Linked DNA regions of Homo sapiens. The protein of the gene in region 1 purifies or fractionates together with the protein of each later gene. This does not show direct contact. Each region holds a gene or a part of one and is shown on either strand. Other genes may lie near its edges.

Region 1 (3,744 bases):
GAGTGCAAGAATCTGGAGCTGGGAAAAGGGTTCTTGGAGGCCAGGGGAATACGGGGTCCCAGAGAAAGATTTCCTTCTCTTAGAAGTGCATGTATATGTGGAGGGAGGGAAAAGGGTCCTATAGAATGAGGGAAGACAAAAATGTTTTATTCCTGGCTAAGGCTGCCCAGGGGAAGGTTCTGACATTTCTCGAGATAAGAAGGGTTGGGGGGTGGGTGGGAACAGGGAGGGAATTTGGCAGGAGGACATGCTCCTGCTTAGAATAGACCTGGGGTGAGGGAGTGGTAAGGGGAAAAGATTACTGAGTCCCAGAAAAGGAAGTGGGAGACAGTTCTTGCATGCTGGGGAAATGAGACTGCGAGTATGAGGCTTGCTGAAATTTGAGGGAGAACAAAGTAAGACGCCAGGTAAGAGAACGTGGGGTGCGCATCCTGGGTAGATATTGGGAAGTGGGGGTACAATAGCAAGAAACAATGGATAGTCATGGGGGTGGGGGGGATAGGGCACTTAGAAAAGAAAGAACACAAGAAGGGCTGTTGGGAGGGAGGGAGAGGAGTAGAGACATACAGTATTTTTTAAGAAAAAACATATTTTTTAGGATTTTTTCTGGAGTTTGGGGTTTTAGTTTTTCTGCTTTTGTTTTCCACAAAATAAAAAACAAAAAAAAACTTTTTTTTTTCCTTTACACTCTGGCAACTGCGTGTACATGACTATCCTGCCCTAGACAGCCTCTCCCTGTGATGCTGCGTTCTTAATACCTAGAGGTCACAACTCTGCATATCCCTTGCCTGAAGGAGCCCAGCCCTAAACATGGGAGAGGAGTGTGACAAGTGAGCTCCTCTGGTCAGGGACTCCCCCAAGTCCCCACCCCCAGCCCTCCACCAGTTCTGCAATCTCAACACTTAGCCAGGTACCTCACAGTACAAGTGATTGGCAGTCGTGGGGATGCACATGAACTCTATTTGAGGGACTTAGGATCAGTGCTAGGGATGAGCTACAGGTGGCCAACCTGCCCACGGAAATTGTAAGCAGGAGTCTGTTTGGTCATATTTTGTCTGGGGTAAATAGGTCATGTCTTCAGGAAAGCTAAAAAAAAAAAAAAAAAGCTAAGTTTGGATTAAGGTGCAGGGAAAACTACAATTCCCAGAAAGCTCTGGAATAGTTAACCAAAGAGAACTACAGTTCCCAGAAGGCCTTTAATTGGCCTCAGGTGCCCCACCTGCCTGTGTCAAATACTGCGTGTGAAATCATACAGATCTTTTCCAAACTCGACCAAAACGTAATACCTAAAGGGATGGTACCCTAAATACAGCTATCGAGATTGTCTATCTTGGTGTATATCATTTATACTTAAATTGTCCGCTGGGCTATGACCCACGGAGTACCTGACTGTGCTTATGAAGTGTTCGGCAAAAAAGGTTTACTTACTGCAGTGTCACCAGTCAGTAATGACGTTCGGGCCGCTGGGCTTACCTGGATCCCTAGTGCGTGTGAAGGTGTAACACGCCTGATATAAACAGAAGAGACATTTAGCCACAGGTTTTCAGAAGGGCACGCTGCTCCAGGGGACATGAAGCAGCATGCTAGAACCAGCCAAGAATAAAGGTGTCCTCCGCGTCCCTATCGCCCCTTCGTGCTCGTTAGAAAGAGCAAAAAGGCGAGGCCAAAACTGAGGCCAAGCCTTCTATCTGGTAACCCAAAAACTAGAAAGGCAGAAAAGCAACCAGAGGCGGGAAAAGCCCAACCAGGCCAGAGGAAATACAGCCGCTGCCGAGAGCCGAGAAGTTCAGAAGCTCCGCTTGTTACCTAAAACCAGATGGGGACAGAGACGCCACACCTGGGCCCAGGCGTGTCTCGCCCTCGGTCCCTGCAGAACTGAGGCCAGGAATGACAGGAATTCTCCCTTGCAGCTCCCAGCTTAGGACAGTCACAGCCATCTCCGAGGCCGCTCTCAGGGGAAAATGGCCAAAAAGCATGTAGCGGCTCCTTTAAGGCTCCTCCTCGCCCTCCCTCCCTCGCCCACGTGACCCGGGGCGGCCGCGCGCCGGCTCGGCCCCCAGCGCAAGCGGCGATGGCGGCGGCGGCGGGAGCTGCAGCGGCGGCGGCCGCCGAGGTGCGGAAGGGGAGGGGGAGAGGCGGGTGCATGCCCGCGCGCGCGCCCGGGGGAAGCGCGCGCCCGTGCAATGCTCCGGGGGTGCAACGGGGCCGGGGGGCCCGGGCGGGACTTGCAGCAATCCAGGGGGCCAGCACCGGGGGCGGATGAGGGGACCAGGGTGTGGGAGGTGGGGGGAGTGGGCACGGAGGCGCGCGTGCAGCCGCCGGCTGCCCCTGAGTGGGCGACGGGCGCCGGGGCCCCAGGAGCACGCGTGAGGGGCACGAGGGGCCGTCCACCGGGCTGGGGGGCAGCGGGTGCTGGAGGGGTTGGTGCCCGGGGTCCCCGCGGCCTGGGGGACAAAGGGGGAGCGGCGCGTGCAGCCGGGAGGAGGGGGCGGGGCCGGGGCGCGGAGGCCCCGCCCCCTCCCCCTCCTCTTCTCTCGGCCCCAGAGATGCGGGGTCTACCGAGAGGGAGGGGGTTGATGCGGGCCCGGGGGAGGGGTCGTGCGGCCCCTCCGGGCAGCCGAGGCCGCGGAAGGGGGGGGCCCCACAGAGGAAGAGGTAGGCCCCGGAGCCTACTCTCTCTTCCCAGGGCCCAGGCATCCTGGACCCCCCAACTCTCTACTGGGCTGACCAGCCCTCCTGTCCCTTGTCTCCCCTCCCAGGGGGAGGCCCCCGCTGAGATGGGGGCGCTGCTGCTGGAGAAGGAAACCAGAGGAGCCACCGAGAGAGGTGAGTGCAGCTAAAACGGGCCCCAATTGGACCGTCACCTTCCCTAAACACAGGATCTCCTGAGCCCTTAGCTCTGAACTTTTTCTCTTCCTCTACAGTTCATGGCTCTTTGGGGGACACCCCTCGTAGTGAAGAAACCCTGCCCAAGGCCACCCCCGACTCCCTGGAGCCTGCTGGCCCCTCATCTCCAGCCTCTGTCACTGTCACTGTTGGTGATGAGGGGGCTGACACCCCTGTAGGGGCTACACCACTCATTGGGGATGAATCTGAGAATCTTGAGGGAGATGGGGACCTCCGTGGGGGCCGGATCCTGCTGGGTGAGAGGCTGGGTAGCCTGGGGGGTTGGTGGGAAATTTCTGACTCTTGCCTTCTTTCTTATCTTGCCTTTTGCTTGCCTGTTTTCTAGGCCATGCCACAAAGTCATTCCCCTCTTCCCCCAGCAAGGGGGGTTCCTGTCCTAGCCGGGCCAAGATGTCAATGACAGGGGCGGGAAAATCACCTCCATCTGTCCAGAGTTTGGCTATGAGGCTACTGAGTATGCCAGGAGCCCAGGGAGCTGCAGCAGCAGGGTCTGAACCCCCTCCAGCCACCACGAGCCCAGAGGGACAGCCCAAGGTCCACCGAGCCCGCAAAACCATGTCCAAACCAGGAAATGGACAGGTGAGTGGGATGGGAGAGATGGGATAATCAACCATAAACCTTTGGTGAGCTCTTTTACAGTTTCACTTAAGGCTTCTACTCCATTTACTCATTCACATATTTAAGCAAGGGGCTGCTGTGTGTCAAATATTAGGCTGTGCTTGATCTGTGAACCAACAGACAGGTTCCTCTCTTCCTGCAGTTTACATTCTTGGGTGGTGAAAGTTTGATGTTAAAGAGTCAATTATATAGTTAATGTCTTAATTACTCTTATGATAA
Region 2 (3,744 bases), on another chromosome or scaffold:
TTAATCATCTGGTTCTGGGAAGGTCAGGGGCACAGAGTGGACTTTAACAGGTTTTAACCCTTTTCTTCCTTTGTTCTGTTTCTTTTCTCTTCACATCTATAATTGGAAGTAATGCCAGGCAGAGGGTTGGGGGCGTCCTACGTGAAACACTGGTGACCCCATCAGGGATTCCGGGCAGCCACGCGGTAGCCCAGGCAGGAAAGGGACAACCATGTTCCCAAAGTCCCGTGCTGTCATCTTGTGTCCTCCAGTGTCCTGGGTCCCTCCTGTCCCCCTGCCTCATGGAGCTGCCCTGGGGTCTCGGACGGTCTGGGAGGGTCTCGGGGGGTCTCAGAGGGTCTTGGAGGGCCTAGGAGGGTCGGGAGGTGTCTCGGTGGGTCTGGAAATGTCTTGGGGAGTCTCAGAGGGTCTGGGAGGTTCTCAGAGGGTCTGGAGATTTCTTGGGGGGTCTCGGAGGGTCTTGGAGGGTGTGAGAGGGTCTCAGAGGGTCTGGGAGGATCTCGGAGGGGCCTTGGAGGGTCTCGGAGGGGACTTGGAGGGTCTCGGAGGTCCTGTGCCCAAGGGAGATGGTAGTGGGTGTCCACAGTCTGTGTCCACTTGAGTCAGCGAGCTGAGGCACACACGAGTTGTCTTTCACGTGGATTTTTAATTTACTTTTTACAAATATCACAACATATAGACCAGAAAACCCCCGGCGGTCGGCCCTCGTTGGCCCGTGCACAGTGGGTGGCGTGGAGTGGGTTGTAGCCACGGGGCCGCAGTGGTGCAAGGCTGAGCACTTGCCTCTGTCTTGCAGGCGTCCGACCTCCGATCATGAACGGGCCCCTGCACCCGCGGCCCCTGGTGGCATTGCTGGATGGCCGGGACTGCACAGTGGAGATGCCCATCCTGAAGGACGTGGCCACTGTGGCCTTCTGCGACGCGCAGTCCACGCAGGAGATCCATGAGAAGGTACCACCACGTGGTCGCCTGGGGCTGGCAGAACCGCACGTTGGGGGGAGTTGGAGGGACGGGAGCACGGCAGGCCCGGGCCACAGCAGGTCTGGGTGCCACTGGGGCAGGAGCAGCCTCTGTCCCAGTCGTCCCGCGCCGTCAGGAGGTGGACACGGGGTTTTCCCTGGACACCATCAGGAGGTGGACATCGGGTTTGCCCTGAGCCCCATCAGGAGGTGGACACGGGGTTTTCCCTGTGCCCCATCAGGAGGTGGACACCACGTTTGTCCTGAGCCCCATCAGGAGGTGGACATTCGGTTTGCCCTGTGCCCCATCAGGAGGTGGACACGGGGTTTTCCCTGAGCCCCATCAGGAGGTGGACACTCGTTTTGCCCTGTGCCCCATCAGGAGGTGGACACGGGGTTTGTCCTGAGCCCCATCAGGAGGTGGACACGGGGTTTTCCCTGAGCCCCATCAGGAGGTGGACACGGGGTTTGTCCTGAGCCCCATCAGGAGGTGGACACGGGGTTTGTCCTGAGCCCCATCAGGAGGTGGACACGGGGTTTGTCCTGAGCCCCATCAGGAGGTGAACACCGGGTTTTCCCTGAGCCCCATCAGGAGGTGGACACAGGGTTTGTCCTGAGCCCCATCAGGAGGTGGACACGGGGTTTGTCCTAAGCCCCATCAGGAGGTGGACACGGGGTTTTCCCTGCACACCATCAGGAGGTGAACACCGGGTTTTCACTGAGCTCCATCAGGAGGTGGACACGGGGTTTGTCCTGAGCCCCATCAGGAGGTGGACACGGGGTTTTCCCTGAGCCCCATCAGGAGGTGGACATGGGGTTTTCCCTGAGCCCCATCAGGAGGTGGACACTCGGTTTGTCCTGAGCCCCATCAGGAGGTGGACACCGGGTTTTCCCTGAGCCCCATGAGGAGGTGGACACTCGGTTTGTCCTGAGCCCCATCAGGAGGTGGACACTCGGTTTGCCCTGTGCCCCATCAGGAGGTGGACACTCGGTTTATCCTGAGCCCCATCAGGAGGTGGACACTCGGTTTGCCCTGTGCCCCATCAGGAGGTGGACACTCGGTTTCTCCTGAGCCTCATCAGGAGGTGGACACGGGGTTTTCCCTGAGCCCCACACTCGGTTTGTCCTGAGCGCCATCAGGAGGTGGACACTGGGTTTGCCCTGTGCCCCATCAGGAGATGGACGCTCGGTTTCTCCTGAGCCCCATCAGGAGGTGGACACGGGGTTTGCCCTGAGCCCCATCAGGAGGTGGACACCGGGTTTGCCCTGAGCCCCATCAGGAGGTGGACATTCGGTTTGCCCTGAGCCCCATCAGGAGGTGGACACCGGGTTTGTCCTGAGCCCCATCAGGAGGTGGACATTCGGTTTGCCCTGAGCCCCATCAGGAGGTGGACACCGGGTTTGTCCTGAGCCCCATCAGGAGGTGGACACTTGGTTTGCCCTGTGCCCCATCAGGAGGTGGACACTTGGTTTGCCCTGTGCCCCATCAGGAGGTGGACACCGGGTTTGCCCTGAGCCCCATCAGGAGGTGGACACCGGGTTTGCCCTGAGCCCCATCAGGAGGTGGACACGGGGTTTGTCCTGAGCCCCATCAGGAGGTGGACACTCGGTTTGTCCTGAGCCCCATCAGGAGGTGGACACCGGGTTTGCCCTGTGGCTTCTTGATTCATTTTCAGTTTTTTCCCAGAGAGCAGGTCCTCGGGATGCCAGCTTTTGTGGCGGGGGTGGAGTAAGGTGCTTCCCCCGGCCCCAGTTGCGCGGCGGTCTTCACACGGGCGGTCTCGGCATTGCCCGCGGCCTGGCTTTGGTCCAGCAGTGAGCAGCCTTTGGGCAGCTTTCCTGATTCTTGTTTGCTCAGGAGACCCACAGGCTCCTCCGTGATGAGAACTAGGTTGGTCTGGCTTCTACTTGTAGCCAGGGATCAGTGATTCAGAGCAGCTTTTCCCTGAAGACAGACGAAGAAGCTGGGCCCCCAGGAGCTCACAGGATAGGGCCAGGCCCAGGCTGCAGCCTGGAGAGGCCTATAACCTGCAGGAACGGGCGGGCCTTGCCAACTCTGGCCTGGGGTGTTGGCTGTTCTGGAAGAAGTAGCTGAGAGGCTGAATTTGGCTTTGGTGGCATCACTGGCCTGCTGGGTGTGGGGCCCTGCCGGGATATCCATGGCCTGAAAGGTGACATCTGGAGTGAGGGTGACCTGGACTCTGACGCGCCACACGATCGGCACCCAGCCTGCTGATGTCCAGGAAACCTTGAATCTGGATTTTTGGGGACCCCGCACTGCCGGCCCCAGGTGCCTGGCAAAAGAAGTAAGACGGCCCCTTTAGAGGAAGACAGCGTCAGCCGAGGCCTCGGGTCATTTCTACAAATCACCATCTGGTGCGGGGTCCATCACATGCAAACAGAGGTAACCAGGCAGTCAAGGAGATGCGCAAAACGCAGAAGCCAGGGAAGCAGTGCCACCCGCAGGAGCTCCCCGTGCTGCCCACGAGCCGATCACCCCAGCCCAGCCCCCAGGAGGCTGGGCCAGACACCGACGAAGAGCTGATGACTCTGGAACGGGGCGTAGCAGCGTTAGGGGAGAAAATGAGATGCGGATCTGAGAAAACGGCGAAGCTGATCGGTGGAACTGAGGGGCGGGTTTACCAGCTGACCAGGCGGCAGCGGACAGGAGGGAAGGAGAGAACGCGGGAGAGGGCGAGATGAGGAAGGGTCGCTCTTGCAGAAACTTCAGAACAGGAGAGGGAAGGGGTTGGAAGTGATGATGACAGCAAAACCCTTTCCAAAA
Region 3 (3,744 bases), on another chromosome or scaffold:
GAACAAACTTCTTTGGCAATTTACATATACCTAAGAAATATAACCTTTTATTCAGTACCAACACCTGATTCAAATACAAGTAACATATATATATATACTATATAAACCTATCTGTTATGCAATCCAAAAAGGTACCTCTCAAAATGCACCAAGAAAATACTGTACTTATAACAATTTAGACTCTGGGGTTAGCTGACTGAAATAGATTAATACAACACATCCAAAACTAAAAAATTCTATATCTAACAATTTTCAGCGTCCATGAGTCTCTTTTGAGATTAGTTTATAAACTATTTCCTGAAATTTTTATTTAAAAGCAACAGCCTACACCATGTCTTTATGATGTGGTGGTAAAATTTTATGGATAATTACTAATTTGGTTGAAAATACCTACATCTAAAAAACTTAGCCTATTACATTTGGAAGCCCCACATCTATAGTGACAATCAGCATCATCTTTCGTTAGTTTCATTTTTTGTTATTAATGCCACTCTAAAACACTTATATAGGCTTTTGGTTCTTCAAATAACAGTTTTGGATTTTCTTTTCATAATTTTTACAGTTTTATCCAGTGGCCCCATTTTATCAGAATATTACAAACTATGATTATGGTTTTTACATTGATGACATGTTATTTTTATCTCACCCAAATTCTGGAAATTTTTGGCCCATCAGTTCTCAAACACTGGAACATATAAGAAGAGTAATATAATCTTATATTACTTGAGGGAGTTTGGATTTTCCCTCCCTTAATCTCCAAGTGTACCCCTGCCTACCAGCATCACATCCGTCTTGTCTGCATTGAACCTCAACCAGTTGGTTCTTAACCACGTCCGAAACTCAGCCAGGCACTGGGAGAATCGAGCGACCACACCATCTGGATCAAAGGAAAGAGAGCCTCAGTAGCAAGGAGACAGAAACGATGATACAAGCTCACCATCCACCCTGTTTCGCATTTTTAAAAAGATGGTCGGGAATCAGGACAAGGATCCCATGACAATTTTAGAAAAACATTTAATGAGCCTTAAGTCATGCAATTTGTAACTAATGATAAAGGAATAAAAGCGACCCAATAAATAGGTCGCCTCATTCCACCCATAAGTGAAGAAGGTTCAGTCAACTCCGGGTCATCTTGGTGAAGCGGCCTCAATAGCCAAGTCAATCTTGTAATTACATAAGTTCTTCTGCAGAAATGCAGAATTCTAGCGTTGGAGGAAGCTTTAAATAGGGAAAACTGAAGCCCAGAGAGGGATAGTGACTCGCTCAAGGTTACACAGCATGCAGGGACCACAGATAGGCTCCAGGCCAGGGACCTAGCCACTACAAGCTGAAAGAACAAGAGTAAAGAGCGGCGGGCATCTGTCCCAAGGGATCCTCCCACGCGCTAGGAGGACCTCGTTTCCTTACAGTAATACCCTATTCGAGTCTCTCCTCCCTCCCTGACTCCATCCGAAAAGGGCAAGTTGGCCCAGGGCGCTGCTCACCATAAAGGCTGCAGTGCAAGCGAGAGCCTCCCGGGGATGGGACACAAGTGAGGGAAATACAGGAGAAAGAGGCGGAGCCACAGCAGGGTGGTCAGCTTAGCCCCACCCCGACTGGGATCAGGGACCGAAGCGAACGGGGCGAGGCGAACTCACTCCGCAGCGGATTCCCAGCGCGGCGCCACCACCGCGAAGGCAAAAAGGCGGCGCTGGGAGGCAGTCGATGGCCAGAGGGAGGAAGCTGCGCATGCGCCTTTGGCAGCCGGCGGAGAGCAAGCCAGGCGCGTTCTGCGGCAGCCCCTCCCCGGAAGTTAAGGGTCTTCCGGGCGGTACACTGCCGTGGGGGAGGGGAAGGAGAGAAAGGGGACTGAGGACACCTCAGGAGCCCCTCATCCCAAACTGGAATAGAAGGGGAGAGATGGCTTGTGGAGGCTGCACTTACAGCCGCTGCCGCTGCTGCCGCCGCCACCTTCGCTGCTGCCGCCACCGCCTGAAGAAGCCCCATCCATCCGCCTGCAGCCGGGAGACTCAGAGCCTGGGAGGGGCCTGAGGCCCGGGCCGCCCGCCTCCTTCTTCCAGTCGTCGTCCGGAGCTTCCTCCAGCTCCACCAACCCTCTGCCCTCCCCTCCGCCTCCGCCCTCCTCCTCGGCCTCGTGCCGCCAGCCAACCGCGCGGCCGCTTGTTGAGCCAGGGCTCCACCGTCGCCATGACGCCCGGCAAACATTCCGGAGCCTCGGCCCGAGCCGCTAACGGAGGAGCTTGGGGGTACAGGGACTTCAGAGGCGGCCAAAAAAAGGGGTGGTGCACCACTCCCCAGCTGGTCGCCACCATGCCAGTCTCTCCGGCAGGCAGTCACAAGCAGCAGAACTTCGGGTTGTAAGTTCCGGCGCTAAAAACCGTAGTCCATCCCCCTGGGACCCGGAGGGAGCCCTTCTATTAATAGATACCATTTCTGGATTTGGAAAGGGGCCCTACCCTAACTGGGTTCAGTCTGTAGACCTTGAAGCTCCTAGGCCACAATGTCTCCTTTATCGACCTACCGCAGTCTTTAAAAGAATCTCTACTGGGCTGGGCGCGGTGGCTCACACCTGTAATCCCGGCACTTTGGGAGGCCGAGTGGGGTGGATCACCTGAGGTCAGAAGTTAGCGTCCAGGCTGGCCAACATGGTGAAACCCCGTCTGTACTAAAAATACAAAAAGTTAGCCGGACGTGGTGGCACATGCCTGTAATCCCAGCTACTTGGGAGGCTGAGGCAGGAGAATCCCTTGAACCCGGAAGGCGGAGGTTGCAGTAAGCCGAGATCGTGCCGTTGCACTCGAGCCTGAGCAACAGAGCGAGACTCTGTCTAAAAAATAAGATAAAATAAATCTCTATTGCTGTGCTTGCTGTGTGAGAAAAGACCTGGTTTAGAACCATCGTTCTAGCACTTCTAGTTTGTTAAGGCCTGCAGTCTCTCAAGCTTGATGCTTTCATGCTGTGCCCAGACGTTCAAGAGCCTCAGCTTCTGTGAGCCACCAGGCCGAACATTGCTGTGCTCTGTAGTAGAGGTATTTTATTGTCGTCTCGTCAATACCATCTTACTTTAAAACTAATTCCTGCTTCCAACATTCTGTTGTTATGCAGCAGTTGAACAAGACTGTAGAAAAGCACACAGCTGTGTGGACTTGTCTTACTTTAAATGGTTCCTTAGCGCTGCCCGTAATGCTGCCCACTAAGTTCCCCCAAAATTCCCTAAGTAATTTGTTTTCTCTTCCCCTCTCCAATCTCCTCCACCTCAGCTAATCTTTCTTCAGCGGAACTTGTTGAGAGTTCTTGGGAGAGAACCTTGCATTCTCTCTTGAATATGGTACTCACGCTTTTGTCCATCCTACCACTCCATCAAAACAGCTTCTATGAAAGCCAGCAATAGCCATGCAACCAAATACAATGGCTGATCCACAGTTTCATTCTTTTTGAATGAAGCAGTGTCGGTCGGGTTTATCGCTTCTCGATCTTTGAAAAGCTTTATTTGGGTTCTGAGAAACCACTCTTCCTAGTTCTTGTCTTGGTTCATGGTTTCACCTTTCCCAGATCCTTTGCTGGTATCTGTTCCTCACTACCATAACTAAATACAGTCATGCATCGATGGTGATACCTTCTGAGAAATACCTTGTTAGCCAATTTCAGCATTTTGCAAATATCTTCTAGTGTACTTACACAAACGTAGATGTATGGGCTACTATACACCTAGGCTACAATTGTATAGTAGACTGTACACCTAAG

What was found.
Region 2: the proteins of EHMT2 (region 1) and CTBP1 purify together in Homo sapiens (affinity purification with mass spectrometry; 6 studies listed by BioGRID and IntAct, with this or other methods). This does not show direct contact.
Region 3: the proteins of EHMT2 (region 1) and MIER1 purify together in Homo sapiens (co-immunoprecipitation; 3 studies listed by BioGRID and IntAct, with this or other methods). This does not show direct contact.

What each region holds. Positions count from the first base shown.
Region 1 is NC_000006.12:31,896,005-31,899,748, reverse strand, and holds the start of EHMT2 (histone-lysine N-methyltransferase EHMT2), read left to right. Parts: upstream 1-2,050; 5' UTR 2,051-2,071; coding exon 2,072-2,113; exon of another isoform or gene 2,114-2,183; coding exon of another isoform or gene 2,184-2,759; coding exon 2,760-2,826; intron 2,827-2,924; coding exon 2,925-3,143; intron 3,144-3,232; coding exon 3,233-3,486; intron 3,487-3,744. UniProt on the Homo sapiens protein: Histone methyltransferase that specifically mono- and dimethylates 'Lys-9' of histone H3 (H3K9me1 and H3K9me2, respectively) in euchromatin.
Region 2 is NC_000004.12:1,235,390-1,239,133, reverse strand, and holds part of CTBP1 (C-terminal-binding protein 1), read left to right. Parts: intron 1-796; coding exon 797-951; intron 952-956; exon of another isoform or gene 957-3,744. UniProt on the Homo sapiens protein: Corepressor targeting diverse transcription regulators such as GLIS2 or BCL6. Has dehydrogenase activity. Involved in controlling the equilibrium between tubular and stacked structures in the Golgi complex.
Region 3 is NC_000001.11:66,923,275-66,927,018, reverse strand, and holds the start of MIER1 (mesoderm induction early response protein 1), read right to left. Parts: upstream 2,030-3,744; 5' UTR 1,991-2,029; coding exon 1,924-1,990; intron 1,687-1,923; exon of another isoform or gene 1,485-1,686; intron 878-1,484; coding exon 777-877; intron 686-776; exon of another isoform or gene 647-685; intron 1-646. Other genes in the region: DNAI4 (dynein axonemal intermediate chain 4), read left to right, coding at 2,188-2,357. UniProt on the Homo sapiens protein: Transcriptional repressor regulating the expression of a number of genes including SP1 target genes. Probably functions through recruitment of HDAC1 a histone deacetylase involved in chromatin silencing.